Regions from separate parts of the Homo sapiens genome. Here all the other regions are reported to be linked to region 2. Evidence: microRNA targets listed by miRTarBase, many of them from high-throughput screens and not tested one by one. Region 2 holds a microRNA gene; each other region holds the end of a gene's coding sequence.
The links. Region 2 holds the annotated microRNA hsa-miR-4700-3p (CACAGGACUGACUCCUCACCCCAGUG, at 2,607-2,632, shown strand). A microRNA usually pairs through its seed, bases 2 to 8, with sites in the 3' UTR of a target mRNA and lowers its output. Matches are read on the target gene's strand: a 7mer-m8 pairs with bases 2 to 8, a 7mer-A1 pairs with bases 2 to 7 and ends in A, and an 8mer does both.

Region 1 (8,114 bases), not on the chromosome of region 2:
TGAAGAATATTGGCTCAAATACTCTTTAAAATATAATAAGTGGGATAAAAGCTTGATATAATAGTGATTCAGGTTTGGTTTAGGAAATTTTGCATTCCATATTTTTAAAAAGTCGGGAAAAATTAATATATGTGAACACATCTCATTGAGGTAAAACTTAACCTCAGCAATCTGGAATATTATTGGAACCAGGAAGGTTTTTTGTTTATTGTTTTTTGAAGCCTTTGAACAGTAAGCAACCTCAGTGTAATAACATCAGAATACTTTTTATTCCTTTATTGATAAAGAAGTATTTTCGGTAGTTAATGATCACTACTAAAAGTAAACTTGAAAACTGAGATTTATAGTATTTATGCTTTTATAGTAAGTAGAAGAAACAAATTAGAAGACATCTTTGTATTTTAGTGTTCATTACAATAATTTCTTTGAGAACCTCTGTCAGCACTATGAACACATCAGTTGTAGAATGGCTGTTATTTGAAGGGGTCAAATAATTAAAAGGAAAAGGCAGATTTATAGTATATATTTCACAGGCTTATGCAATATAGTTACAGTTGTGTGTGTGTCAGTTTGGAAAAGGCACTCATTTTAGAGAATAATTCTCATTAAACTGCCACATTTATTTTTTATCAAGCTGTCACATGTTTGTATGGAGTAAATTTCGTAATGATTCATGTGTCGAGTCTTACTATATAACTAGTCAAACTTGAGGAAGCTTTTAATAGGCATCAGCAACCAGTGAAAAATTTTTCAGCATAGACTGCATTCTAGCATTTTTAAACTTTTTCCTGCTTAGAGGTTGGTAAAAGGCTCTGGTCTCAGGAGTATTTCAGATAGTTGTAATAATCTTAATTTCAGCTTCCAGACAATTAAGATGCAGTCATATAAATGATGTGTAAAATAAAAAGCAGCTAATTATCTAAAATAGCCATGTGAAATTAGATGCTATTTTAGGGGTTTTGTATGGTTCGCTTTAGTTTTATGAATCAAATAGTTTTTCCAAAGAGATATATCCAGTGATTTTTGAGTTAATTAAGTAAGTTTTATAATGCAACACTGAATTTCTATACAATTAAAAACATGTTTTAAGGTATTTTTATGTTTTTTAGTTATCTTTTATTTGGAAACATTTTAATTTGCATGATTTGTCTAAAATTCTCAATTTTTCTTTATTAGATATTACAGTGACAGAGAGAAACACAGAAAACTGGATGATCACAGGAGTAGAGATCACAGGTCAAATTTGGAAGGAAGTTTAAAAGATAGATCTCATTCTGATCATCGTTCTCACTCAGATCATCGGTTACATTCAGACCACCGGTCAAGTTCTGAATATACGCACCATAAATCTTCCAGGGATTATAGGTATCACTCAGACTGGCAAATGGACCACAGAGCTTCCAGCAGTGGCCCTAGGTCACCACTAGATCAGAGATCTCCTTATGGCTCCAGATCTCCATTTGAACATTCAGTTGAACACAAAAGTACACCGGAGCATACCTGGAGTAGTCGGAAAACATAACAAAAACTGATACTTCGTCTTTCTGGACTTTTCTTTTAGCCATATATCATAAACCAACACAGTAATTGCCTTACATGACTTGAAAGATATAAACAGATCTTCTATCAGTAGCAGTATTGTTACTTCTTTCCAGGATGCAAGGTCTATTATCCCAACAGAAGAGAAAATATTTTTATATTTAAGGATTATGCTGCACTGTACTACAAAATTGTAGTACTTTTTTTTGTTTTCTTTTTTAAAGAAATGGAAAATGTTTACTATTACAGGGACCTCAACACTGCCCTCCCATACAGGCTGGATAAAACTGTTTTTAAGTCAGTGATTTTAGACTGACCTCCATTTAAATTATGTTTATATATGAACTTTACTCTGACCTGTGATCATGTTTCAGGAAGGAATGAAAGAGAGTTCTTTCTTAATAAAGAAAAACACTCAAGGACTTTGTTCATTTCCAAAGCTACTTGTTTACATTGTACACTGCGACCACCTTGCCGCTTTTCATCACAAGCTTGAATATTTAAATTCTGTACTTATATCTGTAAAATAGCCAGGAATTTCCTGTTTGTGATCTATTATGCCTTTTTACAAAAAAAATGGCTGTAAATTATTGTAAATATTAAAGGAACTTTCCTTACTTCCTTCCCTTTCTCAGGCTTTTTTTGACTGTTCCTTTCCCTACCAACTCAGGCCTTCTTATTAAAAAAAAAAAAATCAGTGTAATAACACTTTTTAATGATTTGTCTTGATGGAATCATTGTTTAGAATGTAAAAATGGGGAAAGGGGCCACTTAATTCCATTAGTCCTCTTTTTATACTGAATATTTTATTAGATACATGTTATTCCCTTTTTTTTCCTTTTTTAGTCAATATTGTGTTTGTAGTTTTAAAAAATGGCGAGATATGTAAAATCTAAACTGCATGCTCTGGAAACACTTTTTTCAGATGCATCTGGTTTAAAAGGGTAGGTGTATAAACACTTTTCAGAATCCAAAACGGCCAAAAGTTATTGTAAATCCGTTTGTTTTCCCGTTTTATGTGGGCAATAATGTCAAATGTGCTATGCAGCCAGGTTAACATTTTAGATAAACTTGATTGACTTTTAATATAAACTGTTACAATGCACACTGATTGTATATAAAAACGTTATATATGACAAATTAAATTTAAGAAAAAGGATATGTGGGCTCCTGTAATTTTCTGCTGCATTCTTACTCCCTCAAGCACTTACCACCACCACCACCGCCCCCTACCCCCGTTTTTAAGTAACATTTTGCTGCCAGAAAAAGTATTTTGGTAAGCAGTTGAATATTTGTAATGTGTAGCATTACAACTAAATCTGTTTTGGAGACTATGAATATTCCTATGAAGTAAAACTTAGGTCATAGACATTTTTGTTGGCCCCTTTTGGCTTCCTACAGATATTATTATGGGATGCTTTATATTTATTCACAGATTTTTATTTTGTTTTATATTCAGCGGGAAGTTTTTAAGTCATGTGGCACACATTCTTGCATGTATGCTTTGATGTAACAAATTTGAATCTTTGACGAATATAAGTATGTGGACATAATTTCTATAGTATTGCTATGTGTGTCACTGTTAATTAGCTGTGGGAGCAACCTACAGATATTTGTCCATAGGTGTATTTTTTAATATTTTCCTTTGTCCAATTAGGTTTATGTGTATAAAAGCTTGTGGGTTTTTTTGCTTTTTGTTTTGTTTTTTGCAGTAATTTCTCTTTCTGATACAGTTACCCTGAAGAATAATAATGCTTTGTTTCTTTTCTGGTATATGAGAGAACATGTGAGGGAGTAGCTCAGTTTTTTAAACATCTAATTTATAATTAAATATAAAAGTAATGAAGGTAGTCCTGGCACACATTTTTGAAACTTTTATCACTTTTCTCTACATTTAGTATGACTATTTTATTCCACAAGATAGCATTTGACTAATTCATAATGCTTAAGTCATAAGATGGTGGCTGGCATTTTTTAATTTATTACTAAAAGCTAAGATATTTGCATTATATTGTGCAAATTTCACAGAACAATGTTGCATTTTCTGAGATAAGGCTCTAATTTTTTAAATAGTGCTACATTTAGTTGAAAGTTTCAGTCAGCTAGTTAGCTGAGTTGAATGAAAAATATAGAACTGTATGTACATTTATCAAATGATAAAATATGTTCATTTTTGTAAGAAATCAGAAAAATTAAGACGCAATGGTGAAGAACATTAGTACATAAATATAGCAGAACATTCTCCATAAAATATTCTGTTTTCATTCTGCTTTGTTATTTTTATCCAGTTATGTTTAATTTTTCAAGGGTGAGAGATTATGTATAGTACTGTACCAATTAACCTTCCACTTTTATACAATAAATAATTCTTACTAAAAGCAATAGCCTGTTTGCTTATAAAGATATTCTTTGTTTAGAGTATGTTAGAAATTAATTTTCAGACTATGGAAAATGAGTTTGAATAATTTTATTTTCAGAGTGAGTAGCTTAATGAGAACCTTTTTAATTTTATGTAATATAAATTATAATTTCTTTTTGTAGTTAATATGAAAAGGTTGAGTAGGTTATTCATTTTCATGAAGTTTATCAAGAATATGCTCTAGGAGTAAATGGCCTGATTTTTACTCTACCCCATTACTATTTCTAACTAGAAAATAATCTTTGCACCCCAAATTAGCTGTCATAGCTTTATAAATACAAATAGCTTTATAAATACAACAGCTTAAAAAGGGATAGGGATTTGGAAGAGCAACTAATTTTTAAATACAGGATTTTAAAAAACGACTTTCAGCTTCATAGGAAACTGCAAAAATATTTTAAAATATTTCTGAGTTAATATGTAAAAGCACATTAATATAGATGCCTCTATTAAATATACATTAAATACTCAATTTGAAAATGCAGACAAAACTTAGATACATTTTAGCATTGTACAATAATTGTAGTGAATGGAGGATGTTATAGAGGACACAACTAGATAGTAATGCGACAAATATTTTGAGATAGTGTCAAAATGTGTGTGAAAATTTCTAAGATTCAATTATAGATATTTGGAAGAAAGTTTGAGATTATATTTTCTGACAATAACTAGTAATTGATTTTGTAGAACACTTCATGCTAATTTTCTTTAAAAAATTAGGACCTAATAGGTTGACTCCATTACAGAAATTCATTGAATTCTCATAGGAAGATCTAGGAATAGGAAATCTTAGCTATGGTGTAAAAGGATGAAAGATGAGATTACTGGGGAAAGTAGGATTAATGAAAAATGTTAAAAGGTTGTTCCAAGTACCTATACAAATTCTCTAATGGGGCTTCATGTGCTGGATTTTCTACACTAAAAGGCCACTAACCACTCTGCCCTTTAGCTTAAAAAAAAAATTACATCTATATTTGAAACAAAATTTGTAGTTCCAACTCCCAAATGAATGAAATTATTTTAATTCGATGTTCTACTCCACATTTGAGTCCTGATCTAAATATGAAACTAAAGAGGTATGAACAGTCTAAAACTCCTAATGATTCTATTAAATGAGCTAAGGATATTGTTTCCGTTGGTGATATGCAAACTTTATGTGACTGAAAAATGTGTGATGTATTATCATTTCATTATTGTTGACTAATATTAATTAGATTTCCAATCTAGAATGAGCTATGGAACTGCCACTAGTTACTTTTTTTTATTCCTTCTGTTTACTTTTCAAATCTTTGATTTGTCTCTAGTGTTCTGCAGGCTGACTATATTAAGTCCTGGTGTGGTGGTTTTATTTATTTATTTTTTTTAAATTTCTTTTTTTATCAGCTGTTGCCTCTTACCCACTTCTTTTTACTTTCTGGAATCCTATATCATTGCTATCATAAGACTTAATTTCTGATCTCTCTCTTTCTCAACAGCTGTACTATTTTTCTCTTCCTGTTTCTAGTGCTATCTTCAGCTTCAACCACTACCCTGAACTCATCTCCACTTAGACAGCTAATAGATATGTAATATTAAAATATGTAAAACCAAACTCAACCCTTTTACACTAAGACATTAAAAGTTTTAAAAACTGCAAGGCTGGGTGCAGTGGCTCACTCCTGTAATCCCAGCACTTCGGGAGGCCGAGGCAGGCAGATCACTTGAGATCAGGACTTTGAAACCAACCTGGTTAACACGGTGAGACCCTGTCTCTACTAAAAATACAAAAATCAGCTGGGTGTGGTGGTATGCGCCTGTAATCCCCACTACTCGGGAGGCTGAGGCAGGAGAATCACCTGAACCGAGGAGGCAGAAGTTGCAGTGAGCAAAGATCACACCACTACAGCATGGGCGACAGAGTGAGACTGCCTCAAAAAAAAGAGAAAGTTTTAAAAACTAGGGTCTTTGATAAATGCATTCACAGCTTTCTGCCTAAGGCACTTCTTAGCTATTTCTGTTCTTTTTGCTTCACTTCAGCCACTCCTGTCAATGCAAAGAAAATACTTCTTGGCCTTTGCATTATTGTCCCTCTATTAAAAAATGCTTGGCCGGGCGCGGTGGCTCACGCCTGTAATCCCAGCACTTTGGGAGGCCGAGGCGGGTGGATCATGAGGTCAGGAGATCGAGACCATCCTGGCTAACAAGGTGAAACCCCGTCTCTACTAAAAATACAAAAAATTAGCCGGGCGCGGTGGCGGGCGCCTGTAGTCCCAGCTACTCGGGAGGCTGAGGCAGGAGAATGGCGTGAACCCGGGAAGCAGAGCTTGCAGTGAGCCGAGATTGCGCCACTGCAGTCCGCAGTCCGGCCTGGGCGACAGAGCGAGACTCCGTCTCAAAAAAAAAAAAAAAAAAAAAAAAAAAAAAAGCTTATTTGTGACTTGTACAAAACTCGTTTCCTCAATTCAGGTTTCTTTCAGCTCAAATGTCATTTCAAGTCTTGAAATTAGTACCCTGCCCCATCATTTTTAAAAATCCCTTATCTTGCATTTTCTTCTAGCATTACCACAGCTTATATATTTGGTTCATTTGCCATTGACTGCTTCCCCACTAGAATATAAGTTCCATTAGGGCAGGGACTTTATTTTGTTCACTGCTATATTCTCAGTACTTAAAACAATGCCTTGTATCAATTATATTTTCATTTTTTTTAATGTCCTTCCCGGAAATGCTATGCCCTATAAATGGCCAACATTACCAAACTTTTTGTCTTACCGTTGTTAACCTGATTTGTTAGTATTGGAAATTATCGTATGCCTTACTATCTCATGGATTACTTGAGTCTGTTTACTAACTTCCAGTTTTTAAACTTGACTGATAAAAATCACCGGAGGTACTTGAGAAATATAGAAAAACATAAGCCTCATCTCTAGGAATTAAAATGGCAGGGAAATGCTCCAAGTAATGGGGCTTTAATATCTCTTTCATTTACCTGAATAATTAATATAGAGGTTAATTCCACTGTTATAAATAATACAGTAATGCTTAAATGAAAAACTGGTTTCTGTAACTATATGGCTACTTAGGAAATATAATTGATACTTTGCGAAGAGATATGCAGAGATGTGGTATATAATAGGAAAATATAAAACATTCTGATTTGTCTATTGCTTTACCTTTCTTATGAACCTTCTTCATTATTATTTTTTAAATTAGAAGTGAAGTCTTGCTATATTGCTCCAGGCTGGTATCGAACTCCTGGGATCAAGGCAATCTTCCTGCCTCAGCCTCCCAAGTAGCTGGGATTACAGACTCAAGCCACAGTGACTGGGTTGTCTATTCCCTTATCTTTCGAAAGGAAATATGTTTTTAGGTATCATGATACACTATCTTTCTTAACGCACAAGAACACGACTTGTAAAAACACTAAGAGAAATATGTTGTATTTCCAATGTTTTTAAAGTAAAATTGCAAAAGCAAAAAATATCCCCTCTCTTGCTGTTACTTGCTAGGTTTTTCCCATTAAGAAATTTACATCATGTTTACCCAAGTTAAATTCACCTTCTCTAGGTGTACAGCATGATGAGTTTTGACAGATTATGCAGTTGTTGTAACTATCAGCGTACTTAAGATATAAAATATTTCCATCTTATCAAGTAAATTCTCTTTTGCTCCTTTCCCCTATACCAAGCCCTTGGCAATCACTGATTTGTTCCTATAGTTTTATTTTTCCCATAATGTCATATAAATGGAATCATATTGTATGTTGCCCTTTGAGTTTGCCGTTTGCTTAGCATGATGCTTTTGTAATTATCCATGATTTTGCATTTATCAGTAGTTCATTTCCTTTTATTGCTGAGTGATCCTCCTTTCCCAGGTTGGAGTGCAGTGGCACAATCATGGCTCACTGCAGCCTTGACCTTTTAAGTATGTCTGTGATTCATTTTGAGTTGATGTTTTGTATGTTGTGTGGAACACACAAAGTTGTGGGTTTTGTTATTGCTTAAATATTATATATCCAATTTTTTCAGTACCATTTGTTAATAAGACTATCCTTTTTCCACTACATTTCTTTATTATTTATTTATTTATTTTGAGACGAGATCTCACCATATTGCCCAGGCTGGTCTCAAACACCCATGCTCAAAGCCGTCCTCCCAACTAAGTCTTTCAAGTAGCT
Region 2 (8,114 bases):
CTTTGTGGAGAGGCTGCTGCTCTGTCTGACTTCCAGGGTCTCAGCCAGCCCTCCTGGGAATAGACCAAGTTTTCAGCCTGGCAGTGCCTTCTGTTCCCATTTTGGAGGACAGACAAGCTTGCTCCACATCTCCTGGCTCCTCCCTTCTGAGTCTCATGAAATAGAATGAGTCAGCTCTGCTCATGGAACAGTAGTATCTCTTGAGGCCAGAGCAGGTCTTGTATTTTGTTTTTTTATTTCCAGACTTCTTTCGGGGAGGTTTTATAAAATGACAGTGGTGTTCCCAGCATATGTGATATGTGGTTAGACTTCTGATAGTATCAGCTTCCAGGGGCTAATCTGGCTTATGTTGGGAGGATATGCTTACGAATCAGCAGCAGCTTTCTAAAGGAGAGATTTGACTTTTCTCTGCACTGCACAGCCTGGAGGATTGGCTTTTGATGGGGATTTGCCTCCGAAGCTCTTTGTACATTTCTTGTTTAGGAGGGTTTTCCTATCTACCTTTCTACTGAAGTAGTTTCTGGAACTTTCCTGGTGGATCAGAGTTACGTAATGCAGTCTGAGCCTTCAGACTGCTAGTTAGAATTGTTTTAGGTGTTCAGAAAGGGCAAAATAGGCTGATGTGGCCTGTCAGAGTGATGTGTTCTCAAAAAAGTTCACTTGCACATCTGTGGGCTGCTTTTGTCCTCAGACCCTTAGTGGACAGACTCCACAAACCCTCTGATGAGACGATTGATGTGGCCAGGGTCCAGTTAGCATCAGTAGAAGGATGTCACTAGGAAAGGCCCAGGTATCTGGTAAGTGACTGTGAGGTGTCACAGTACCTGTGACAGGAGAGTGTCCTGATGTGCTTGGGAGAAAGGCCGTATGGGGGCCAGGGATGGAAGAGACAGTGTGTGGCCACAGAAATTCCTGTCCATCCACCACCAGTGCTGCTCCCTGTGTGGGCTTTAGGGCGAGTGGCCCCGAACCTTGGCCCAGTGCTTTGTCCCAGGCCAGAGTCTTGGCAATGCCACATGCTGGCAGCTTTCTCACTGAGAAGGTCCTAGCTTACCCCTGTGTGCTGGCCTTGGATTCAGCCCCGAGAGAGGGGAGAGACCATTCCTCCTGTGGAGTGGGTTCCTTATCACCAGACCGGCCACTCTCAGAACTGGCGTCCACTGTAAATCCAGGTGCCTTACGTGTGGCTCTGTCCCTTATGCTGCAGGGGAAAGCTGCATTGCCATTGTTCCCACCTCCTCACTGGCAGAAAGATGCCAGGGCTGTTAGCACTGTCTCCTCACCTTCTGTTTCTCATTGTGGCTCCTCAAATGGGATTTGCATGTTCCTGTCAAGCGTAACAACAATCCCTTCTCTCTTTGACAGAGGCCCAGGTGGGACAGTTTCTACTATTTGATATTTGAGTATTATCTGGGATGTGGTTCTGGAGCTGCCCAGAGCTGTGCTTAGTAGAGTGTGTCTTGGAAACATGCCCCTGGGCACACTGTATCTGCTACATTAGTGGGCTATCTCTTATCTGCAGTGTTCGCTTTTGCTAGAAAGAGGATGTGGAGGAAGGAGGAGGTGGGCAATCTGGCTTGAGTTGTGCTGTATCCTCTTCCTTGTTAGCTTGCCTTAGTCTCACTGGAGACCATTTGCGGATAGTGCTTGGTCCATGCCCAGCAGGACAGGGCTTTGCTGCTTCTGAAAGTCTGGTGTTCTGTATCTGGGGCTGTGGGTTCCTGTGTCTAGCTGCTCAGGAAATCTTGAGAAGCATTCCACTCTGGGGTGTAAACCAGTATGAGTTTGAAATTCAAGCGTTTGTACCTGAGTTGGGGAGAGAATTGCAAGGCATACTTTCTCTGAAAGTAACAGAACCATTCAGGCTGCCATGTTATTAAGGAATCTGAACTGTTGATAGCAGTTACCTTGTGGGTGATACAATGGGAGGCGGCAAAAAAACTACCTGCATAGGAGACCCTGCCCTTTGTCAAGAGCTGGGAGCACATTTCATCAGAGTAGCAGGCCCACCTGGTGCCAGAGGGCCTGCCCCTCCTGCTTCTGTTCCTTTGCCTTGCAGTCTCCTGGAGAGAGCCTCTCTTTTCCTGTACAGCCTTTGGGCCAAAATGCCCTTCTAGCTTCTCCAAAGAAGATCCGAGTTTATTTCATTCTATGTTTTAAGAGGTAAAAGGACATAACAAGTGAAAGAAGTTTTGGGCTAAAGTAGGCTATGTCTCCTTATGTATTACTCAATACTGTTTTGCAGAGAAAACATTTTTCAAGCATGTGCTTCCTGAAGACACCTCAGTCTTTGGGCCATTTGATTTCCAATACATAGGGTGGAAGAATGTGATTTTGGGGCTGACCATAAACTGGAAATTTGTGAAATGGCAGTGATTGGGCAATCTTCAGTTTATTTTTTCAGTTGAAGTGGAACTCATTTCTGGAATGGATTTAATAGGCTGTGTCTAATGTACAAACTGGGTGAGTCCTGCCTTAGTGTGTCCTGCCCCACCGGTACGCTTCCAGGATACTCTTTTCCCCTCTGTAAAGTCACTTTCTTCTGATGGCCAGTGTCACTATGATGTCAGTGAGGTCTGGGGATGAGGACAGTGTGTCCTGAAATTCACAGGACTGACTCCTCACCCCAGTGCACGAGGATTCCTGTGGCATCAGGTGCTGCTGTACCTGGTGTAGGAGCCTAATCATTGAACCATTGTGTTACTCACATTCCATGTCACAGAACATATCAGCCTCAAGAAGGATTTGGTGGAGGTGGATTTACCACTGGTTTTACAAAGGACCGTGTAAAGTCATTGAAGTTGTGAAAGTCTATTTTTTTTCCTGTAAATCTATTTTTTACAGAATATAAGAAACATCAATGACCTGATCTGTCCTTCCTCCTCCTTCCCGCTTCCCCCAAAATCACATTCCAGTTTTTATTGTCTTTGTGTCCAAAGTAAACTAGGTGACTTATTTGTATAAAATGTTATTTTGCCACATGAGACAGTAATAAAAGAAAGATTTTCACAGTACGTCTCCCTCGTCCTGTCTCCTGATTGTTGGGCCCGTTGTGTTGCTGAGGGGAGCAGGGGCGAATGGGGGCTCCAGGTTTCTCTTACTTTGGCTATTATGTGGCCCTTCTGTAAGTAGTTGAACTAGAGTATAGCTGGCTTCTAGGGTGATTGAGGAATTGTACTGGACTTTAGGCTTAATATTTTTGCTTTATATTTTCCCAGGGTGAGTGGCTTTGTAAATTGAAAGTTTACATGCATGTTTTAAAGGTAGGGTTTTTTTTTTTGAGATGGAGTTTCGCTCTTTTTTCCCAGGCTGGGATGTGATGGCATGATGGTGGCTCACTGCACCCTTCGCCTCCCGGGTTCAAGTGATTGTCCTGCCTCAGCCTCCCAAGTAGCTGGGATTACAAGTGCATGCCACCACGCCCGGCTAATTCTGTATTTTTGGTAGAGACAGGGTTTCCCCATGTTGGCCAGGCTGGTCTTGAACTCCTGACCTCAGGTGATCAACCCGCCTTGGCCTCCCAAAGTTCTGGGATTACAGGTGTGAGCCACTGTGGCTGGCCATAAAGGTAGGCTTATTAAGAAATACTTTAACTACAGTAAAATTTACCTCAATTAAGAGTATTGATGCATTTTGACAAATGAATACTTTTATTACCCATCACAATCATGATATAGGACATTTCCATCGTACCCACTCAGAAAGTTCCTGAGTTCCTTGTGTTTGCAGCCAGGTGACTTCCCCCACTTCGCCTCTTGCAACCACTATCTGATTCTGTCTCTATTGGAAAACTTGGATACTTTTAAAATGAAATTTGAACGTTCATATTTACAGTCACAAATTCTCAAGAGTCTGGTTTAGATGCTCTGTGGCACCTGAAGCAATTATTGGCCTTTGCTCACAAACACAACTCACTTATTTCTCCCTTTTCTCCTGCTTCTTCATCGTTTCTTCCACCCAGGGCTGGTTCCCAGGTGGGATGACGGAAAGGTGAGGAAGCCCTTAGAGCATTTGCCAATGGGAGCCATTCATTTGACTTTAAAGTACTGAGAATTTAGAGGCGTTCTTTTAAATGCATTATTTAAAAAGAAAGGTAACACATTAAGGACTTTGCTGCATCTTTTGATTGGCTTTCTTCTAGGAAGTAGTGACCGAGGTTTCCACTTTCCTCCAAGAGGAAGAGACAGAAGTTTTGGCAAATAGGTCAATGCTGGGAACAGATGCCTGCCTGGCTGAGTGCTGGGAAAGAAAGGCAGTTGGAGGGATGTGTGGGTGCCTGGGAGGGCGTGGGTGGTGCCCAGGAGGCTATGGGAATCAGAATCACACTTGCACAAGAGAAGACCCTTATGGGACAAGTAAAATCAGCATAGTTTCTTGGGCGGGGCAAAGGTGTCCTGATGAGGATGCTAGGGGTCAAATATGTGTCTGGGTTCTGCCCCAATCGGGAATGAGACACAGTACTGAAGTGGAACGGGGGTAGCATCTCCACCCACCTTCACAGCCTCTGGGGAAAAGAAAGCTTTCCTTGCAGCCCAACTCCAGGGGCCTAAATATTGAGCACCAACACAAGACAGGTCCTTGAGCTTCTCGGAGCGAGTCGGGGAAGCAGATAATTTCAGATGCAAAGTGCCTTGAATAAACAGAACGAAAGATAGAGAGCCAGAGGGGGAGAAACGGCTTGGTGTGGTCAGGGCAGGCATCCATGAGACCTAAACGAAGAGGGGGCATTCCAGACAAAAGGAACAGTGATCACAGAGGCCCCGAGTCAGGAACCAGCTAAGGGTCTTAGAGAAGAGCTGCCTCGTAAAGCTAAGCAACAATAACCAGGGAACGGTGGGCATGGGCCCTGATAGACAAGGCAGGTCTTGGCTTTTTAAGCCATAGAATTGGATTTTAGGAGGGATGGGCCCGCCGACAAAGCCAACAAAGTTTTAACCCGAAGATCGCTATCTTATTTATGCTTTAAAAAGACCTCTCTGGCCTTTCTGCGAAGCTCTATCCTTAGCTTTCTCTTGTTAGCATTTTGATTAACGAATGTGGGCACGAACAGCCAGCTGACCGACCGCGCGCGCAGTCGAGCGTCGGTTCCTCGCCTTGGGAGGGACCACTGGAGGCCCCGCCCCCTGGCCGCGAGCGCACCTCGGCCCCGCTCCCGAGGCCCTACGGGCGTGGCCTCTGTCCCGGGTCCCGCCCCCCAGCACTCCGGAACAGCGCGCTCGCAGCGGGAGGTCGCGAAGCCTGGGACTGTGTCTGTCGCCCATGGCCGCCGCGCTGCTCGCCCGGGCCTCGGGCCCTGCCCGCAGAGGTGAGTGCGCTGGGGATCCGTACGGCGGGGCTTCAGCCCGCGTCTGGCCCAGCGGGCGGAGGTCCTGGCGGCCGGCTCTGTCAGAGCCGCTGGCAGGCGGAGCCCCACTCCGGGAGCGCTCACGGCCTTTGCCCCAGTTCTGCTGCTCCTTGCGCCGACCCAGCCCGGCCCTTCAGGCGTCCCTGGTTCCTGCACAGACCCCTACCCCCCGATTGACCCCAGCCACCAGCCCAGTTCCCAGTTCCCATATCTCCCTCCCTTCATTTCACCCCCACTAGAGGTTCAGGGTGCGTCCTTCTTCCGGAGCCAGGCCTGGGATTGAACCAGACCCGCATCTGTGACCTTGGGCAAGACAGCCCCTCCTCAGCCTCGGTTGGCCCATGTGTAAAATGTCCACAGAGAAAATCAGAGTTGTTGGGAGGATTAAATCATAGGGTATGTAAAGCACTTCGTGCCTGGCGTGTAACAGGTGTTCCACAAATGCTCGTTCTTGCTGGTTAATACAGTACCTTTCCCATCTTACGTGTCTCCAGTTGTAGCAGCCGTGACACATATAGCCACGGCTTCCTTTGCCTGGCCTGAATTACAAGGGGAACGCTACTGAGAACTGTGTTAAGCGCTAGTTAGTCTTTCTTTCGCACTCCGAGGAGCGGAATACTATTCGCCTCCACTTGTTATAGAAACGGAGGCTCACTGACGTTTAAAACCCTTGCCTAAGGTCACAGAGCTGAGGTCTTATTACTGTTGGTATTATACTGAGGACTGAAGGATGTAGTGTATGGAAATGTCTAGTGAGTGTACTAAGCATTCAGTTAGTATGGGGTTTTCAGTGGCCGCCATGGACATTTTGGGCTGACAGTTCTTTGTTGTGGGGGCTGTCCTCTGCCTTGTTGGATGTTCAGCAGGGATCCCGGACCCCTATCCACTGGGTACCAATAGTATTCCCCTGCTCTAGTTGTGACAACTAGAACTGGCTCCAGACATTGCCAGATGTCCCTTGGAGGGCAAAATCCTCCCTGGTGAGTTAGTGGGTCACTAGGATTCTTGGAGACCTCCTGCCTCCTCCTTCCACTCACTTCTGCCCTTGCCGGCAGCTCTCTGTCCTAGGGCCTGGCGGCAGTTACACACCATCTACCAGTCTGTGGAACTGCCCGAGACACACCAGATGTTGCTCCAGACATGCCGGGACTTTGCCGAGAAGGAGTTGTTTCCCATTGCAGCCCAGGTGGATAAGGAACATCTCTTCCCAGCGGCTCAGGTGAGAGTGCAACCTCAGCAGCCCACGATAGTGGTCTGCCCTCTGCTACTGGATGAATGGTGGCAGTGACAGTCAGCGGCACTCGGACTCTGGTAGAGGAACCCCAAAGCAGGGCCTGGAACCCAGAAAATGCTCTGGAAGTTTCCCTTGTCCAGCCTGTGGCCAGTAGCCAGGACTTAACTTCTGGGACAACAGTAATATGTGGTGGATGGTCAGTTGCTTACTGTGCCAGCCACTGTGCTCATTCTAAATAGTGCCTTTAGGGTGTTTGGCATGCACTAGGCACTGTTCTTGAGATGGGTTATCTCATCTGTTCCTCACAACGGTCCTGTGAGGTGAAGGTACTATTCTTATTTATTTTTTTGAGACGGAGTTTCACTCTTGTGGCTCAGGCTGGAGTGCAATGGTGCGACCTCGCCTCACTGCAGCCTCTGCCTCCTGAGTTCAAGTGATTCTCCTGCCTCAGCCTCCCAAGTAGCTGGGATTATAGGCGTGCACTGCTCTGCCCCGCTACTTTTGTATTTTTAGTAAAGACGGCGTTTCACCATGTTGGCCAGGCTGGTCTCAAACTCCTGAATTCAGGTGATCTGCCCACCTCGGCCTCCCAAAGTGCTGGGATTACAGGTGTGAGACACCACGCCCGGCCAAAGGTAGTATTATTATATACCCCATGGACTCAGACTTGTGAACAAGTTAAATAACATACCCAAGGTCATGGAGCTCATCAGCGGCAGCCTGCTCGACCTATTTTCTTTTTTATTTACTTATTTTTTTTTGAAATGGACTCTCGCTCTGTTGCCCAGGCTGGAGGGCAGTGGCGCAATCTCAACGCACTGCACCCCTCTGCCTCCTGGGTTCAAGCAATTCTCCTGCCTCGGCCCCCAGTAGCTGGGATTACAGGCGGGCACCACCACGCCCAGCTAGTTTTTGTACTTTCAGTAGAGATGGGGTTTCTCCATGTTGGGCAGGCTGGTCTCAAACTCCTGACCTTAGGCGATCTGCCCGCCTTGGCGTCCCAAAGTGCTGGGATTACAGGCGTGAGCCACCGTGCCCGGCCTGCTTGAACTGTTTTCTCCCCTGAGTTTCCCATCAGCGCGCTCCCTCCCGTGCCACTGTGTTCTTCCATTTGCATTCAGTCTGTCTGCAGCTACGCGTTGAAGATGTTACTGCCGTACACGCTGACCTAAAGATGTCCAGCACCTGGTGTAAACACTCAGTAGTAGATAGTTGTTTAATTAATGATTTGTGAAAAGTCAAACCTCTCCGGCCTCTTCTCCTTGCCTGTTTTTTTTTTTAATTTTAATTTTAATTTATTTTTTATTTTTAAAAATTTTTTGAGACAGTCTTGCTCTGTCACCAGGTTGGAGTGCAGTGGCGCGATCTCGGCTCACTGCAACCTCCGCCTTCTGAGTTCAAACAATTGTTTCCTGCCTCAGCCTCCCGAGTAGCTGGGATTACAGGCGCACACCACCATACCCGGCTAATTTTATGTATTTTAGTAGAGACGGGGTTTCACCGTGTTGCCCAGGCTGGTCTCAAACTCCTGAGCTC
Region 3 (8,114 bases), not on the chromosome of region 2:
CCACTCTTGGTGGCTAAACGCAAGGAGCCCCTGAGTCCCAGCTCCGCTGGGGGCTCTCAGCAGTTCTGGCCGGGCTCCCTCTTGCTCGCGTGGCTGGTCTCTGACCCCTGCACCGCAGGCGGCCCCGACGGAACGCGCGACGGGTCCCCGACCTCCTGCTGGGGACACCCGTCTCGCTGCCCGGCCCTTCCCCGCTTCCCGCGCCTCTGCGCCCCGGAGAGCTCTGAGACAGGACCACCTGGGCAGCCTGCCGGCCTGGACCTCTGCCTCAGAGCCAGCGACGGAAGCACAGCCTCGGGCCTCCACCGGCCACGCGCTCCCCATTCCGGGCTCTCCCACGTCTGCACACTCCAGCCCAGCCACGCGGAGAGGCTTCCAGAACCTGCCCTGCGGCCCCGCTTTGCTGACACCCCACTCACTCCGTGGGTTCTTCCTCCCGCCAGGACCCTGCCGGGGCCTGGGGTCCGTGGGAAGCCGGCTCAGGAATCAGGATCCTGGCCTCCTGCTTACAGGGAAAAGGGCTCCATCCTCCTGGTGTTTCCCGACTGCAGCGCCTCCAGCCTCCGGGGCTGCTGCGGCCCAGGTTCAGCTGGGTTCACTCCAGCTTTGCTGGTCTCGCCAGTGCAGAGTAGGGGCGCGCTTATGACCTAACGGTCATCTCCCCACAACTCTCCTGGAAGAAAATGCCACCCCCATCTCTTTCACTGTGTCCTATACATGGAGCCACTATGCTCTGCCCTATGGGTTCTGGGGCTCGCCCCCTCCCCACCCTAGCGACCGCCCTTCCCCAGTGCAGCCCAAGGTTGGGAGGAGCAGATCACTTTGGGAAGCAGGTGGATATTAAGAGTAAACAAAAAGTGGGCAGTAGCCACTTGGCAGCCTTCATAGGAATCCTTTTCTGATTACAGCCACAGCAAACAATGGGCTGTTGACTTAGCTCTTCTGAGCTGTTGGAGAAGGAAATTCTAATCTACCCACCCGCAAAGGGCGAGTGAGCAGGGCCACTAGCACAGCTCCTGTGGCAGGGCCTAGCCTTCAGGGGCAGTCAGAGGGCACAGTCTGTTGTTCTGTCTCCTCTCCATGATCCCTAGCAAAAGCGGCCCCGCCCCACTGCTCCCTTCCGCATCCCTCTTACTCCAACCACTGACGTTTCTCAAGCCAGGGTGCCCTCCGAGGTTGCCCTCGGAGCCCCCCTTCTCCCACGCCTACCCAGTGGTTACATGGAGCTCCTGAATGGATGAGTTGTTGCCACTGAGAAGTCTAGGGACATCAGGGCAGCAGAGGAGCTACAAATCCCAGAAGCCCCCGCACCCAGCTCTCCACTTCCTCCTTTTAAAGGCTGCTACTCAAATGCATCATCAGAACGAGTTTGGCAAATGAATTTTAATATACAAAACAACAAATATAGATTCACAGCATTTAAAAAAATCATTCAAATAACATTGTAAATAATTTTTTTTTACAAAAAACTTCAACAAAAATACATATCAAGTTACATCAATCTTGTACACTATACTTTGGCTGTCAACAGCAAATTCCTCAGTTCAGAAGTCCCATTCTTTGACCTATACAGATGACACATCATCTTGAAGTTAATGAGCTAAAATGTTGCCCAAAGCCTTGCAAAGTAGGTTAGCGAGTCATACAGAATGGACACTAATATTTACAAAAAAAGATTAGAAAGATTAAAAGTATTTTCTAAATATAAAATGTCAGTGCCTGTGAGATAACTAAAGGCAACAATGTAAAGTATGTTGTAGCTAAGTAAACTTGTATCAAATATTTAAGCTTTTGCTTTTTTTTTCAAGATCAGTCATGTTCCACTTATTTTTCCAAAGCCTTTTGAAATCCACTTTCATTGCATCCTGAAAACAATGAGACTTTAATAGAACAATTTGCAGATTAGGTTATTATGGGAAAGCTGGGTCTGCTAGTAGTTTCACCTAGTTGACTTGGGTCCTCCATTTCTGGCCTGTGAGCTGGTGAAAGGACATTTATTCATACTTCTTGACACTCCTTTGAGGGACAATTCTAAGTTTCTTCTCTCCCTGACAAGTAATAGTGCAGAAATACTCCCCCTAACTCCAGGTAATTATGCTGTTCTATTCTGACTGGGACACCAAGTTGATCTGCATGAAGGAGTATCAGCAATTTGGCTTGCAGAGATTTCCACCTGATAAAATGCTGGTTCAGCTGGCTTTTACAAAATACTTATATTGTGAACCAAATTTTGAATTAAATGCACTTTGCTTTATGTCTAGATAACAGTCATGTAGGATGGGGGGATTTTCTGAATAAGAATGGCATCGGTTTTCATCTAGGCTAGGTATAAAAAGGCACAATATTCAGAAATAGTGTTTGATGGTGGTGAAATGTTTTCAACTACAAAATCAGATCTACAGTGGGAAACAAAAATCAGATCTAATGAAAAGAAACCATGTGGCTGGTATCCCAGGGAAGCTCCAGCATACTACTGCTGCCCTCTTTCTAGTCCGCAGGCCAAAGACAAAGAAATCTACTGCTCCAGGATTCTGCAAACATTCAATTTTATGATTTTATAATTGCTTTTAATCTACGGCAGGGTTTTTATATGTTTTAGGTATGATCACAATTGAAAAGGTTGCTTTTGACCCAAGGCTACTTCAATTATCTTCTAACAAAGTCGACCAATTCTGAAACGTGAAGAATGGAATAGGTGAAATTCATCAAAATGTTATGTCATCTTTTCTTTTCTTGGCCCATCTATAATATTATGTAAAGTAAGGTTAAAAAGAGAGAAAGGCATAGAGGCGGGAGAGAGCAAGATTCCCAATGAAATTCATACACTGTCCATGGAGGAGGCTCTCTGTTCCCTTTCTTTCCAAGTGGAACACGTGACTCAAATCAGGAAGGAAGTTTGGCAAATGGAAGATGAGAATACTTGAGCCTTCCATTCTTGAAGAACTCAGGCATGTGGTAATAAAACCCAAGCCAGACATGCAGATTTTCAAGAAGTCAAAGGATGTTCTAGCCTTTTAAAAATGTTAGCAGTTTTCAAAATCACCTGAACATCCAAGTAGGATCCACCCAGGAGAGATCTTTAATGGAGTGACCCTCACACTCTATAAAACTGACAGGGGCAACGAATTGAACCTGACTTAACAAAAACACATCCTGGTATTCATAAGTCTCTGTTAGGAAGTCCGTGGAGGTAGGTGGGAGCCGGAAGTTAGGGCTCAGCTGGAAAATAAATTAGGACTGGCCACAAAATGCAAACCATTTCTTCATTACCCATGAATAAATATTAGGAAATGGAAGTCCTAAGAATGACTCTTAAACTGAATCCTCACTGAAAATGTAACACAAGCAAATGATTCTCTTTACTTCCTTAAACTAATTCTCTTATATTACATTTAAAACAATTTGTTCAAAATTGCTGTACATACAAACAACTCTAGCAGAGACCCCTACAGTTATTGCTAAGGTGTGCAGGAAAAGCATATTAAGTAGTTTCCAACATATATCATTGTATTTTGTTAGTAAAAAGGTCAGTTCTATAAACACATCTAAAGTTGGAATGTCTGTTCAAGAAGGAAACATACACACACACACCCCCACACATGCCACAGGACCTCTCCAGAAGCTCCTTCCTGCAGCAACTTCTGTCTCAGGACGTGCCGAGCGGCATGATGGTCCACAGAAGCAACTCGGGCTGTCAGCCATGGGGCACCTGAACCCTTAGCAGTGCTGCCTGTAAGCATGTGTGCCAAGGTGGCTCAGAATGGACATCAGGCGGTCACAGAATGTTCCAAGGGTTCACCTGAGGACCAAGGTTATGTTTTCTTGATGCATGATGTCACTCTCAGGAACGGCTCTGGATGTGGGGGGCTGCAGGGGAGAAGGGAGGTGCCACACACCTGCAGACTGAAGAATACACCTTTGTCTCTGACATCACAGACTTGTTTATTCTCAAACATGGGCCTGTTAGAAAAAAAAAAACTGCAGGGATAGCATACAAAAATGAGCTTCTCATATAGATATCCATTAACAGTTTAACACAGCATCTCCTGTCCAGGGCACTGAGCGGGTTGAAAGGGCACCTCTCTTGCAGAGCCTGCCTTCTCTAGACATAGTTAAAAGTTATATCATGAAAATGTACAACATAGACAAAGAAAAGGAGATGATTATCTGCAGGTGTCAGCCTAGGTGGCCTTTGTTAATAAAGACTGCTATCTCTAAGCCAAGATATTTTGTGAAGGTCTTTTTTTATAAAGAACAAGTCCTCAGAAGCCTGATGACATGCTCACGTGACATGGTTATGCCCTGTTTGGCTTTATATGTGATAAAGGCAGCTTCTGATTTCCAAGAAGCAGGACTGCTTTGGCTGTCTTTGTGACTTCATTGCTAAGGACGATGTCAGGAGCAGTGCGGCTCTTTGAGAGTGCCTTCTGACCAGTGCATTTTCATATTCACTGTATCATAAATATTACAGTAAATGAGCTTTTTATATTGCAAACAGTTGTTTGAATGTTTTTTGTTTTTGTTTTTGTTTTTGGAGACAGTCTCGCTGTATCTCCCAGGCTGGAGTGCAGTGGTGCGATCTCAGCTCACTGCAACCTCCGCTTCCCAGATTCAAAAGATTCTCCTACCTCAGCCTTCCCAGTAGCTGGGATTACAGGCATGCGCCACCATGCCCAGCTAATTTTTGTATTATTAGTAGAGACTGGGCTTTGCCATATTGGCCACGCTTGTCTCGAACTCCTGACCTCAGGTGATCCACCTGCCTTGGCCTCCCAAAGTGCTGGGATTACAGGCATGAGCCACAGCACCCAGCCTTGCATAGCAGTTTCTTAGGTTACAGCATGTGGGCAAGATGTGATTTCTGCTCGGAGTTACTGAAGGCGTGCAGGCAGGAGGGAATCCGACTCCGGGACAAAGCCAGTGTGCAGCAGGATTTCTCCCTCCTTGCCTGAAAAGCAGTGGATTCTTGAGGATGCGTAAGTTGCTCTGCACTGAGGACCCTGATGAAGGTGACAGATGCATCTTCTTTCTCTCCACTTTGCTTGCAGGAAGAGGAACCTTGCAGGATGACATTTGCACTACCAGTTAGCATCTGTGTGGACACAGACGATGCCAGGGAACACCGTGGTCAGCCCCACGGCAGCTGTAGGTCCCCCAGTATTACAGAAGAGAGTAAGAGCTCAATTTCTAAGTGTGACCAGACACGTGCAGCATTGTGTCAACCCCGTCTTGACGGCATCCTTGAAAATCAAATGCAGAAGTGATCCTCTAACCTCATCACTCCTTAGGAACTGCAAAGCCCTGGATGCTGTGTTTGGACCTGCAGCAGGCACTTGCTCATCATCAGCAGGGGTGGCTTCAGCTGCTGCCTAATCACTCGCTTTAGAGCATGGTACCGGGTCCCACATCTGGGCCATCTCATAGTGGGTCACGGGTGTTTCTGTGTAGGATAAAGCTTTGTGTCATGACCGTCTCCTCCCTTCCACAAAGGCAGCTGGGTCTCCAAAGACTGAAGGTGATTCCAAGACCTTCTCTCCTTCATTGATCCCTAAAAGGAAGTTTTTATCACTGGGTCCAAGAAACTTTCCCTGGATTGAAGCACACAAGAAACAAAGACAGTTCTTCTCTTGACACCCAGCTCCATGGAAGCACAGCCTCCTGTTTTCATTTCCGGAAGGGGGTGAGCCTGTTGAAGGTGTGCCAGAAGAGCGAGGACTTCCTCTTGGGTTCCGCCAGGCCAAAGACCTGCTGCTGGGGGACGCTTGTGGGCATAGTGATGTGGCGCTGGTGGATGGGGTGCAGGCCCTGGTGCGGTGGGGCCACAGGGCACCTGTTGTAGCCTGACTCGGGAGGGGAGAGAGATGGAACAGGGACTGAGGGTCGCTTGTTAACCAGAAAGGAAAAAAATAAAAATGCTGAGACTCCAAGTCCAAGTTCTCAGCTAATTCTTTTTTTTTTTTTTTTTTTTTTTTTTTTTTGAGACAGGGTCTTACTGTCACCCAGGCTGGAGTGCAGTGGTGTGATCTTGGATCACTGCAATCTCTACCTCCCAGGCTCAAGCGATCCTCCCACCTCAGCCTCCTAAGTAGCTGGACCTACAGGTGTGTGCCACCACGCCCAGCTAATTTTTATATTTTTTTGTAGAGAGCTAATTCTTAATTCACGTTAACCAAAAAGAAGGTCCAGTAGCTACACTTGTTATGTTCAGGTACTCCGTGTGGAGCGTGACACAGTCTCTCTCACTGAACTCTCCCAAAAAGCCTCCAAGGAGGGTATTATGACAACAACTTGACAGGGAAAGAAACTGAATGCCAGGACGTGCAGCGGGAAGTGGCAGAATCTGAACCAGACTGACAGTCAAGGTGAGTAGCAATAAAATGCTCTAAATGGAAGTCTGGAGCTCATGCTGCCTTGGCCCAAATTCTTCTGTGCCATTTATCAGCTGGGATTACTGGGGAAATGATATGATTTCTCTACGCCTTGGTTCCCCAATCCCTAAAACGGGGATTACAGTACCTATGGGGTTGCTATGAGAATTAAATGAATTAATAGAAGTAAAGTGCTTAGAACTGTGCCCTCAATATCTAATCACTCTAATCAAAACTTCACCGGCATAGGTATTTTTAATCTGTGCAGAGGTAATTTAGAAGGTTTATTAAAATTAGCGATTAGATTAAAACGTAACTGTGTAAGTCAGCATGGCACGAAGAGGGTGGGCCCTGAAAGCAGGAAGGCCTTGGCTCAGAACCCGTCCCTGCCCCTGGCCTGCCAGAAGGCTCTCCCTACCTCCCGAGGTGGCAGGAAGGAAGAAATCAGATAACCCAGGCACAGCGTCCCACCCGGTAGCCACCTGTGAACGTCAGCAGTCCTTCCGTTCTTGAGAAGCCTGGCTGCTGGGCGAGTGACTCGCAGAAGATATGGACAGAAAACAATGTATTCTAACAAATTGATTTACTAGTCATCTGACATTAGAAGTGGAGATTTAAAAAAATTAATAACATGGGTTTTTCTGCCTTAAAGATATTTGTAACTTAGTGGGGAAAAGAAATTCTGCATTTGCATGGAGAAAGCAGGGGAGTGTTAAGTGTGGTTTGGGGAATCAGTTCTTCACTGACTAAAGGTCAGTGGTCTATTGCAGTCCTGGGATTCGTTGGTCCTTGTTTTTGCATTTGCAGTCAGGAAAATACCAAAAGAGATACATTTCATGGGGTAAATGCCTTTTAAAGTAGAAAGATGACGGGAATAAAGTTTCTAAGAATACAGTGCATATTTTTTGGGGAAAAATCCTTATTACTGAATTCCTGTTGGGCCAGATTATCTGCATCCTGTTGGGCCAGATTTGTGTGGACAAATCTTAGTGCATCAGAGCCCCTGGGTATGCGGCCTGGGCATCAGCATTTTTGAACAGCTTCCCCAGGGAATTCTAATGTGCATGGAGATTAGGGAATCACCGCCCTAAATCAGCTCACGTGTCTTTTTTTGTCTAACTCCTTGCCTGATGTACCGAACCTTTACATCTTTTTCTTACTTAAACTAGACTATATCCAGCCTACAGCTGACAAGCAGTTTGGGGTTTGAGATTTTGTCCTCTCATGCCTAAAAGATGCAAGAGTCCTTGGTTTGCCTCAGACTGGGGATGTGCGTGACCTTGTGGCTAACACCATCAGCACTTGGGGGAGGGGAGCAGAGGGGCCCCAGGCAGGCAAGGAGGTCCACCACCCTCCAGCAGCCCCTCTGAAGGTTTCCTATGCCCACATTCCAATGGAAGCAAACACTGACGCACATTCAAAACCAAACACAGGCCACCTTCACCTGGCCCCTGTTCTGGACCTGCCCTTGAGTTCTAACTTCTACTGTTCTCCTTGCTCCAAGCTGGTCACAGGCTGACAACTTGGGGTATGCTCCCATTTTCAGGAGAATACTGATAAGCATTAAGGGGACAAAGCCTTCTCCATAACTTACCTTTTGACTTTCCATGTCCTGCCTTTTGAGCATTTAACATGGCAAGTTTCTTCTGGTTTTCTGAAATTTCCATTCCTGCATTTAGAAATAAATGTGATATATATTCAGAACACGTGGACATGTTTCAGAGCAAAACTTGTATCACAGCCCAT
Region 4 (8,114 bases), not on the chromosome of region 2:
CGTCCATCACTACCCTGTCTCCATTTATTGTTAACAGTGGCAGAAACCCTCGGGATTCTCAAGTAGAAAGTTTTGGGAGCTCTTACTTTTACTTTTTTTTCTTTGACTACAGTTTTCAAAGTCTACACGAATCTCCCTAACCTCCTGAATTCACTAGGCACTTTGCTATGGACTCACCTGGCATTGTTCAGCCATGCTTTTTTCTTGGGATGGTAAATGTTGTATACCTACCCCTCCAGAGAATAGTGGGAAGAAATGGGAGTTGCTGGATCCTAAGGAAAATCTGTTGGTGTTTGTTTGCCTCAACTCCTCCAGTGGGGATGCTTTTTTCATGCCCTCTACCCCCATAAGTAAACATTTCCCAGGCACTCAGATTTGCATTCCTTGGTGTGCAGGTCCTACAGGTCATCAGACGGCCGGACAACCCCCCAGCTGGGCAGTGCCAACCCCTCCACCCCCCAGCCTGCCTCCCCTGATGTCAGCAGTAGCCACTCTTTGTCAGAATACTCCCATGGTCAGTCCCCTAGGAGCCCCATTAGCCCGGAACTGCACTCAGCACCCCTCACCCCTGTGGCTCGGGACACTCCGCGACACTTAGCCAGTGAGGATACCCGTTGTTCCACACCAGAGCTGGGGCTGGATGAACAGGTAAGGGACGCAGCCTTTGGGTGGGGTTGGCATGGTTGGGGGATGGAACCAGGAAGGGGCAGCATCTGCTGAAGAGGGACCTAGCCATCCCCTCCCCCTTTTGAAGGGACAAAGGGCTGCACTTAAATTGATCTCCTCAACGTTCAGTGGAACTGTATTGATCACTGCTAAATGATCAATACAGTTGTCTGGGTATACCCTAGGAGGGGTGTTCCCAGACTGTCGCAGGAACACTAGATAGACTGGTCCTAGGCTCCAGGCCACAAGGTTTGTGGCAGGGCCTTGGAGCAGGAAGCAGGCTGGCTGGGACTGGGTCCTCAAAGAGCAACTTGTCTGCCTACAGTCTGTCCAGCCCTGGGAGCGGCGGACCTTCCCCCTGGCGCACAGTCCCCAGGCGGAGTGTGAGGACCAGCTGGATGCACAGGAGCGAGCAGCCCGCTGCACTCGACGCACCTCAGGCAGCAAGACTGGCCGGGAGACAGAGGCAGCGCCCACCTCGCCTCCCATTGTCCCCCTCAAGAGTCGGCATCTGGTGGCAGCAGCCACAGCTCAGCGCCCGACTCACAGATGAGCGGGAGACAGCCATCTAAACAGACTCACTAACTATTGGCATTAAAGCTTCAGAAATCTCTGCGTTTGATATTCAAACATCATATGCCGGAAATTTTCACAGTTTTTAGTGAACTTAAGGAATTTAGATCCTACTTTGGTATTTTTTTTTCTTGTTTTAATTTTTGTTTTGTTTTTGTTTCCATGTTTTCTTGTCACACACCTGAGCACTTCCTCCCGTTGGCAAACAGAAGTTCAGGATGAGACCCTGCTGGCCTGGTCCTGGCACATCCTCTGCACTGTTGAATCACTGGACTTACTGATCTTAGATGACCACCCCCTCCCTCACACCTGTGGGCAGGGCAGAACAGCCTGGCGGGCTACAGTTTAGCATGGCCTTCTTGAGCTAGGGTGGAATGGGGCAGGGTGCTCTGGACTCTTACCCCCTCCCCTCCCATCTGTGGCTTGGCTCTGCTGTGGCCCTCCTGGCTGGGTCCCCTTGGTTTTTCGTGCTGGAACATCCCCACCAGAGCCTCTCTGCCATAACTGCCAGCTGCTCTCCCCGAGTGCTCAGCTGGCAGAACACCTTTCCTTTCTCACCCAGAACTTAAGAGACTGATTTTTTGTTTCATCTGCATTTGGTCTTCTCTGTTTTGACTCTTTCACTGCAGTAACCTGGCTGTGGCTGCTCAGGTTCCCCTCCTCATGCCCCTTGGTACCCTTCCCTGTCTGCTCTCCCATGCCATGTACACACCCACAACCCGTCCTTCCACTTGGAATATTTTTACCACCTATCCTGATCTTTGAAGGTAGGGTTAGGACTACTTAACCTCTATTCCCACTCCCCTGCAAACTGGGGGTTGTGGGAAGTGAGCAGCCATCTCCCTGTGTGATTTTTTTTTTTTTTCCCTCTGATTCACTTTGCCATGTTTCCTTCACATCCAGATCCCTGTCGGTGTTAGTTCCACTCTTGGTCTTTCACGCTCCCCTTGCCTGTGGAACATTGTCTGGTCCTAGCTGTGGTTCCCATTGTTCCCCCTTCACCCTTCTCTGTTAACCTTGTGCCTGTCTCCTGTATGATCACATCACCAAAAAGGGGGAGGGGGGAGAAGACTCTTTTTTTTTGGCCATTTTGTAATCGTATAAAAATAGTAGACAACTGCTTAATGGTTGGGGTTTTTTCACAATTTTCAACATTAGTGATTTTTTTTTCTGTTTGCAAGTTAAAGGGTTTGTCATTGTTTCTTTAAAAAAAAATACAATAATGCACCATATCCCTATGCATAAAGTGCTTCTTCTATTTATAAGGTTGAAAATTCTGAATAACCCTTTTAGCATTGAAAAAAAAAACAAAAACAAAAAATGGAAAAAAAAAACCTTGTATTTTGTAAATATTTTCTTTTCCTGCTTTGGAGCTGTGTAATGGCAGCGAAACATGTAGCTGTCTTTGTTCTATAGAAATGCTTTTCTTCAGAGAAGCTGATCTTTGTTAATGTCTTGATTCTGTTCGCAAAGCACAGACTAGTGCTTAAAAAAAAAAAAGAAGGAAAAATTGAAAAAAATAAAAAAAAAAGTTACAGAATGCTGTGTACCAGGCCTTTCTTGACTTACTGAACTGTGTATGCATGGTAGTGTTGGCAGTTTCGGAGCTGGCTCTCTGCCGCCGTTCTTTGGGGTACTCTGACTTGCTCTATACCTTGGAAAATCTCCATTCTGTCTTGTGGGAACGCCGCAGGTTGATCTGATGGCCACCAGAGAGAGAATGGTGGTGGCTTTTCACTGAGGGTAAGGGCTGCCAGGAGGAGAGGGGATCTGCATTGATCATCTCTTTTTTCTTTTTGTTGAGTGAAAGCAGTTGATGCACTTTCTCTCTAGTGAAGTCAGCTGTATGATATTTTCTATCTGTTCTAAGTTGCTCTTTAAAGGAGATTTTGCTTCTCACTGTTAAATTTTTCTGAGGTTTGGTGGGGTCAGTGAGATACATAATTTGCTTAGAGCCTGGATTGGTTCTTGCCTGCTGCCTGAGATTATAACATCTTTCTTCTGAGGAGGTTACACGCTTTTTTTTTTTATTGTTTGAGATGGGATCTTGCTCGATTGTCCAGACTGGAGTGCAGTGGTGCAATCTTGGCTCACTGCAGCCTGGATCTCCTTCCTGGCCTCAAGAGATCCTCCCACCACAGCCTTACCAGTAGCTGGGACTGTAGGCATGTGCCACCATACCCAGCTAGTTTTCGTGGGTTTTTTGTGGAGATAGTGTCTCACTATGTAGCCTAGGCTGGTAGGTGCTTTTTTTTTGTACAAGATGAATAAGTGGGTGGGGCTGGTTCTCCCTCTGCTCTCTTCTTTGCATGGCAGTCAAGCTGAAACAGCCAGTGAGGCTGTCTCTTGTGGCTCTGAAAGCCATGCTCTCTGAGATAGCACTTCTCTTTTGCTGGCCTGTTGCTGCTTTTGTAGCTGCAGTTAAAATCTGTTTTACTTAAACATCTGCCTGCGGTGGCAAACACATCAGGAAGAGCAAAGAAAAGTAGTATTTTGAAACAATCTAAGGATTCAGTATCATGACCTTGGCATAGTTACTAAGGAATAATATGATGGATTACTGTTTTGTTTTTGTTTTCCTTTGTGGCATTGCTATGAAGATGCTATCTGGTTATCCCTATCTTGGTTTAGCAGAAATACTCCTCAATCTATAATAAGGTACCAAAGGAAAGAAGGCAGCTCTGCAAACCTAGCAGGAATCTAAGCCATTCATTAAGCTGATTGGCTTGGTGTTCTGCTCCAGCCCCAGGCCTCTGGACTAAATTTCCAGGGATGAAAGATCCCATATCCTCATCCCCAACCTTCTCAGGTTTGCATACACTGGTGCCGGTCTTGCAAACTGAGTGCTGCATCGTGAGGTCAGCCACAAGGCTTTGTATTGCCCTTTGAATGGGACTAGGATGGTTTGCCAGCATCACAAAGAAGCAACTGCAAATGAGCAAGTCTGAGAACTCTCACCTTCAGGGCCCCAGAGAGAGCTGTTAATCCTGATGTCCAGCTTTTATTAATACTATCATTTCCTGTTCTGAGCTAAATTATCTAAGGGTGCGTGGGAAAGAACTTAAAAAATAGACATTCTATATGACTTTCTTGTCCTTGGAATCCATGAATGGAGACCTTATTTAATCAGAGTAATAACTTTATTTCCAAATTCACTTTTACAGCAACAGTCAGTGTAAATCATTTGTTAAAACACACAATACACTATATAGACATTCACAGACAGAAAGCTAAGCTAAGATGATTTCATGTCCCTCCCCCCACCCTCAGAATTACCGAAGAAATCATGGGACTTGCAAGTGCCAGAAATAGTCCTGCTCAACATGGCAAACTCATGGGGCTAAGTCTATTAGGAGGTGAGGCTCTAGGCCAGTGCCCAGGGTAACCCTTTTCAAAGCTGAAGAGAAATCAGAAGTTTTATGAAGCTGCAGGTCTGTAGATGGGACACGCAGGTGATCACCTCTGCCCTCGCCCCGACCTCGTGGCTTTACTTGGAGAACAAAGATGAGGAGGGTGAAGCGAGTGATCTCAGCTCCAAAAGCACAGGCTGTGTGTCTGGAGCCAGTGTGAGAGGTGGCACAGAGGTGCCAACGGCTTAGAGGGAAGGATGCCAAGGTCTTAGGGAGGCATGATTGTGGGCTTAGGACCCCTGAAAGAGGGCAGCAGGCCAAAGCAACCAGATGTCCATATTCCTACGCCTGCACCTGGCTGGGGAGGGAATGAACTAGCCAGCTGCCTGGGAAAGCCTGTCAGTGGAAAAGAGAAACCCCAAGGGCCTCTAACTCCGTGGCTGCTCCCTCCCTCTAGCAAATGTGGTTGAAATCATGAAAAGGGTTACGAGGCAGTTTAAGTGCTGCACCCCAAGATCTCCCTTTGCCCATGTTAACTATCTTACACATTCCTCCCCCCTCCCCCCATAGCACAACAAGCAATAGCAAACAGGATACAGTCTCACCACTGAAGTCAATTTAAATGGAACTATTGATAAAGTGAGTCAGCAGCTTGAAGGAGCCGGCATACAGTATATCCTATCTAGCCCACCCAAGGACACTGGCTCTGCAGGTGGGAGAAGTGAGGGGAGGGGAGGAGTGCCCAGCCCTGGGGGGATTGTCCTCATTTAAGATCACAAGCCAGCGTGCCTTTTCAATTTATCTGCCAGCACTGATCACCCTAAACCATGATCTTAGGCTGGCCCCAAGAGCCTGCCCCACAAGGGGGAGATCCCAGAGCCTTCCGTATAAGAAGGCCCATGGTGCTGAAGAGCAGGGCACAAGAACTTCAGGAAGAGGAACCGAGGTGCGTGAAGAAATGCAGCCGAAACTGTTGGCAGTAATGAGGGGGGCATATCTCTAACCACCACCAAATCTACCCCACATTTCCTTCTCCTTCTCAGATCCCTTCAACTTAGGAGAATTGCTGGGACTCAGCGAACGGCAGGGAGGCTCTTGGTGGAGAGTTCTGGGCCCAGAGACTTCCTTTCAGGTAAAGCTCTAGCTGCACACGAAGCTGCCAGCCCCAGGGGAGGCCCTGGATTTCTACTGCCAAGTCCCTCAGGGTTGCCTTTAACTGTACCCAAACCAGAAGTGGCAGAATTGGGCCTGAGGCTGCTGAGTTTCTTTAGGCAGCAATGTTTTGCAAAGGCGGCTTCCCTTTTCTCATGGCAGCAGATGGAGTTTGTGCAAGGTCAGCGGGCTGAGGTGCTCTGGTCAAGGCTTTGGGAACAGTGTCTCCTGACTTGTCAAGTCATCCTTCCTCAGGCAGGCAGCTTGGGCCTCTAGAGCAGATCCAGGACAGGCAATTCATCCCAATCCCTGCTGTGGTCGCAGGGCCCTTGGTGGGAGGCTGCGCTGCCCCTCCAGAGGGCGAGCTTGGAGAGGAACCCAGTCTGAGGGGTGGCTGAGGCTCACGGAGCTTCTGGGAGCTGCAGATCCCCCCAGCTGGCAGTGGCTTCCTTTTTCTTGTGATGCAGGAGTTGTAAGCCTCCTTTGGGACTGCCATGAGACTTCGGGCTATGACCAGAGAGAACCATCCTCGCGCCGCAAGCCAGACCAGCCACAAGACCTAGTCTGTGCCCTGACACAGGGAGCCCCAAGGGGAAGTAGGGAAGGGGACATCATCGCTTCAGTCCTAATCCTGTGCTTCAGGCCTTCGTCACAGCTGAACGGCCTCCTTAGCTGCTAGAAGCTGGTCTCTGTTGGGTCCCAGGTGCTGAGGAAAGCCTTTCAAAACTTGGGAGGCCCCAGCAGGGTGGCACCACACAGGCCACACGAGTCCCAGTGTGGGGGTGAGAGACACCTCGTGAGGGTGGGTTAGAAACCTCTTTACAAGCATTTCAAGATACATGCGTCCTTTTTTTTTTTTTTTTTTCTTTTCACTATCATAGTCACTCTGGTGAATCCAAGCATAAACAGACAAATCCAACTACAACTCAACAGGGTGCAGATGGGGAGGGCAGGGCAACATCTATGTATATGTTCAGCTGCTCCAGCAGAACAGACAGCATGGCTTCCAGCTGGGACTGGGGGAAAAGAACCATTTCCAAGGGGGTGTGTTCCCCTTTGTCGGGTGTGGAGGGCTGATACTATGCATGTGGAGCTGAGCAGCGGGCTGGGCTGTCTGGGAGGTTGGCAGCTACAAGCTAGGGTGCAAGTGGGGGACAGCGGGACTGTGGGCCTGCCCTGGGTGCCTTGCCCTTCCATCCTGGTGCCACCACTGACAACCAAGACACCCAGCCTGCTGCTGTGGGCTCAGCACAGGAAGGGGCCAGGCCTTCTCAGGGGAAAGGGCTCTCTCCATGTCAACAAGGCAGAAACACCTAGGGTCACAGCTGAGCAGTGCCCTGGCTCACATCTGTGACGGGAGGAGGAGACAGGGAACCGAATCAGATCATGAGATTCGTGGTGAGGGTCCCAGTTGGATGAGTGGAACTGAGAGTGAGAGGCTGGGGTCCCACTCTTGTGCCTGGACTTTGCCTTCCCTTAATTTCACCCTCAGTATGGAGTAGGTACCTCCTGCAACCAACCAGGGTCATTACTGAGAAGGGGTGGTGAGGCTGGGAATTCGGGACATTGTGACGTGTGATGAGGGGTATAGGCAGTGATTGGGCTCTCACGGCAGACAACAGCACAGCGGCGCAGACGGGGTGACTGCAGTGGCCGTGGGAAGGACAGGGGGCTCGGGACCTGCCTCCCAGACCCCCACACACTCCAGAGATGCCAGTGGCCCAGGCTTGGAAACGGGTGGACGTCTCCCAAGAGGCACAAGTCCTTACAAAGAGAACTGGTTAGCCCTAAAGTCCCAGGTCTGCAAAGTGGCCAAAATCATGGCAGCAGTTCCAACCTTCAGAACTCAATAAAACAGGGTTTCTGTGGAGCAGAGGGAAGCCCCTCAACTCAGGCCCCCTACCCTGCAGGGAGGGAGGAAGAGGCCAGCGCTCTCAAGACATCAAGGTCAGTCTTTTCTAAGGAGGTCATCCACGAAGTGCCACCCTCCTGCCAGCTTGCCTTCTCTTTTTACCCGCTGTCCCTTCTCCCACAGGCTGCCCTGCAGAGGGTGGCACACTGACCCACAGCAGGCCCCCACCCCCGGCCACCAAGGACAGGCGGCCGCTCAGACGCTGCAGGTGGCATAGGCCTTGGCTCTCCCAGCGGCAAGGAGGGGGATGTCTACTCTCCAGCACGTGGCTTCCTCTCCCACTCCCACTTCTTGTGCTTCCTCTCCCCTCTGCCCAGCCCCTGCCTCGGCCTCCCCCGTGGCCTCCCGCCCCACCCCAACCCCCGTCACACTCACACAAGGTTGACATCGTCTGCCTGTGGCTCCACGAACACACCAAGTTTCAAATCCTTTGTTGCTGCCACTGCCTCTGTGACACCCCC

Region 1: the mRNA of CHD1 is a reported target of hsa-miR-4700-3p. Seed matches in the 3' UTR shown: 7mer-A1 at 2,708-2,714.
Region 3: the mRNA of SPATA13 is a reported target of hsa-miR-4700-3p. Seed matches in the 3' UTR shown: 7mer-m8 at 3,605-3,611.
Region 4: the mRNA of KANSL1 is a reported target of hsa-miR-4700-3p. Seed matches in the 3' UTR shown: 7mer-A1 at 2,268-2,274.

Annotation. Positions count from the first base shown.
Region 1 is chr5:98,849,788-98,857,901 of GRCh38, reverse strand. It overlaps CHD1 (chromodomain helicase DNA binding protein 1), which reads left to right. Exons shown (of 36, transcript NM_001270.4): 36 at 1,177-3,917. The coding sequence ends at 1,522. Among named protein-coding and RNA genes, the nearest start is that of CHD1-DT, 75 kb to the left of the region's middle.
Region 2 is chr12:120,720,627-120,728,740 of GRCh38, forward strand. It overlaps MIR4700 (microRNA 4700), which reads left to right and starts at 2,567; the gene lies at 2,567-2,640. It overlaps UNC119B (unc-119 lipid binding chaperone B), which reads left to right. Exons shown (of 5, transcript NM_001080533.3): 5 at 1-3,014. It overlaps ACADS (acyl-CoA dehydrogenase short chain), which reads left to right and starts at 5,200. Exons shown (of 10, transcript NM_000017.4): 1 at 5,200-5,305; 2 at 6,400-6,563. The coding sequence starts at 5,260. RefSeq lists an enhancer at 4,872-5,373 and a silencer at 5,010-5,519.
Region 3 is chr13:24,300,324-24,308,437 of GRCh38, reverse strand. It overlaps SPATA13 (spermatogenesis associated 13), which reads right to left. Exons shown (of 13, transcript NM_001166271.3): 12 at 7,963-8,037; 13 at 1,369-5,840. The coding sequence ends at 5,665. It also overlaps a transcript of C1QTNF9 not described here. Among named protein-coding and RNA genes, the nearest start is that of C1QTNF9, 5.2 kb to the left of the region's middle.
Region 4 is chr17:46,024,581-46,032,694 of GRCh38, reverse strand. It overlaps KANSL1 (KAT8 regulatory NSL complex subunit 1), which reads left to right. Exons shown (of 15, transcript NM_015443.4): 14 at 396-648; 15 at 992-2,779. The coding sequence ends at 1,219. MAPT (microtubule associated protein tau) reads right to left here. Exons shown (of 13, transcript NM_001377265.1): 13 at 4,361-8,114. Among named protein-coding and RNA genes, the nearest start is that of STH, 29 kb to the right of the region's middle. RefSeq lists an enhancer at 7,340-7,957.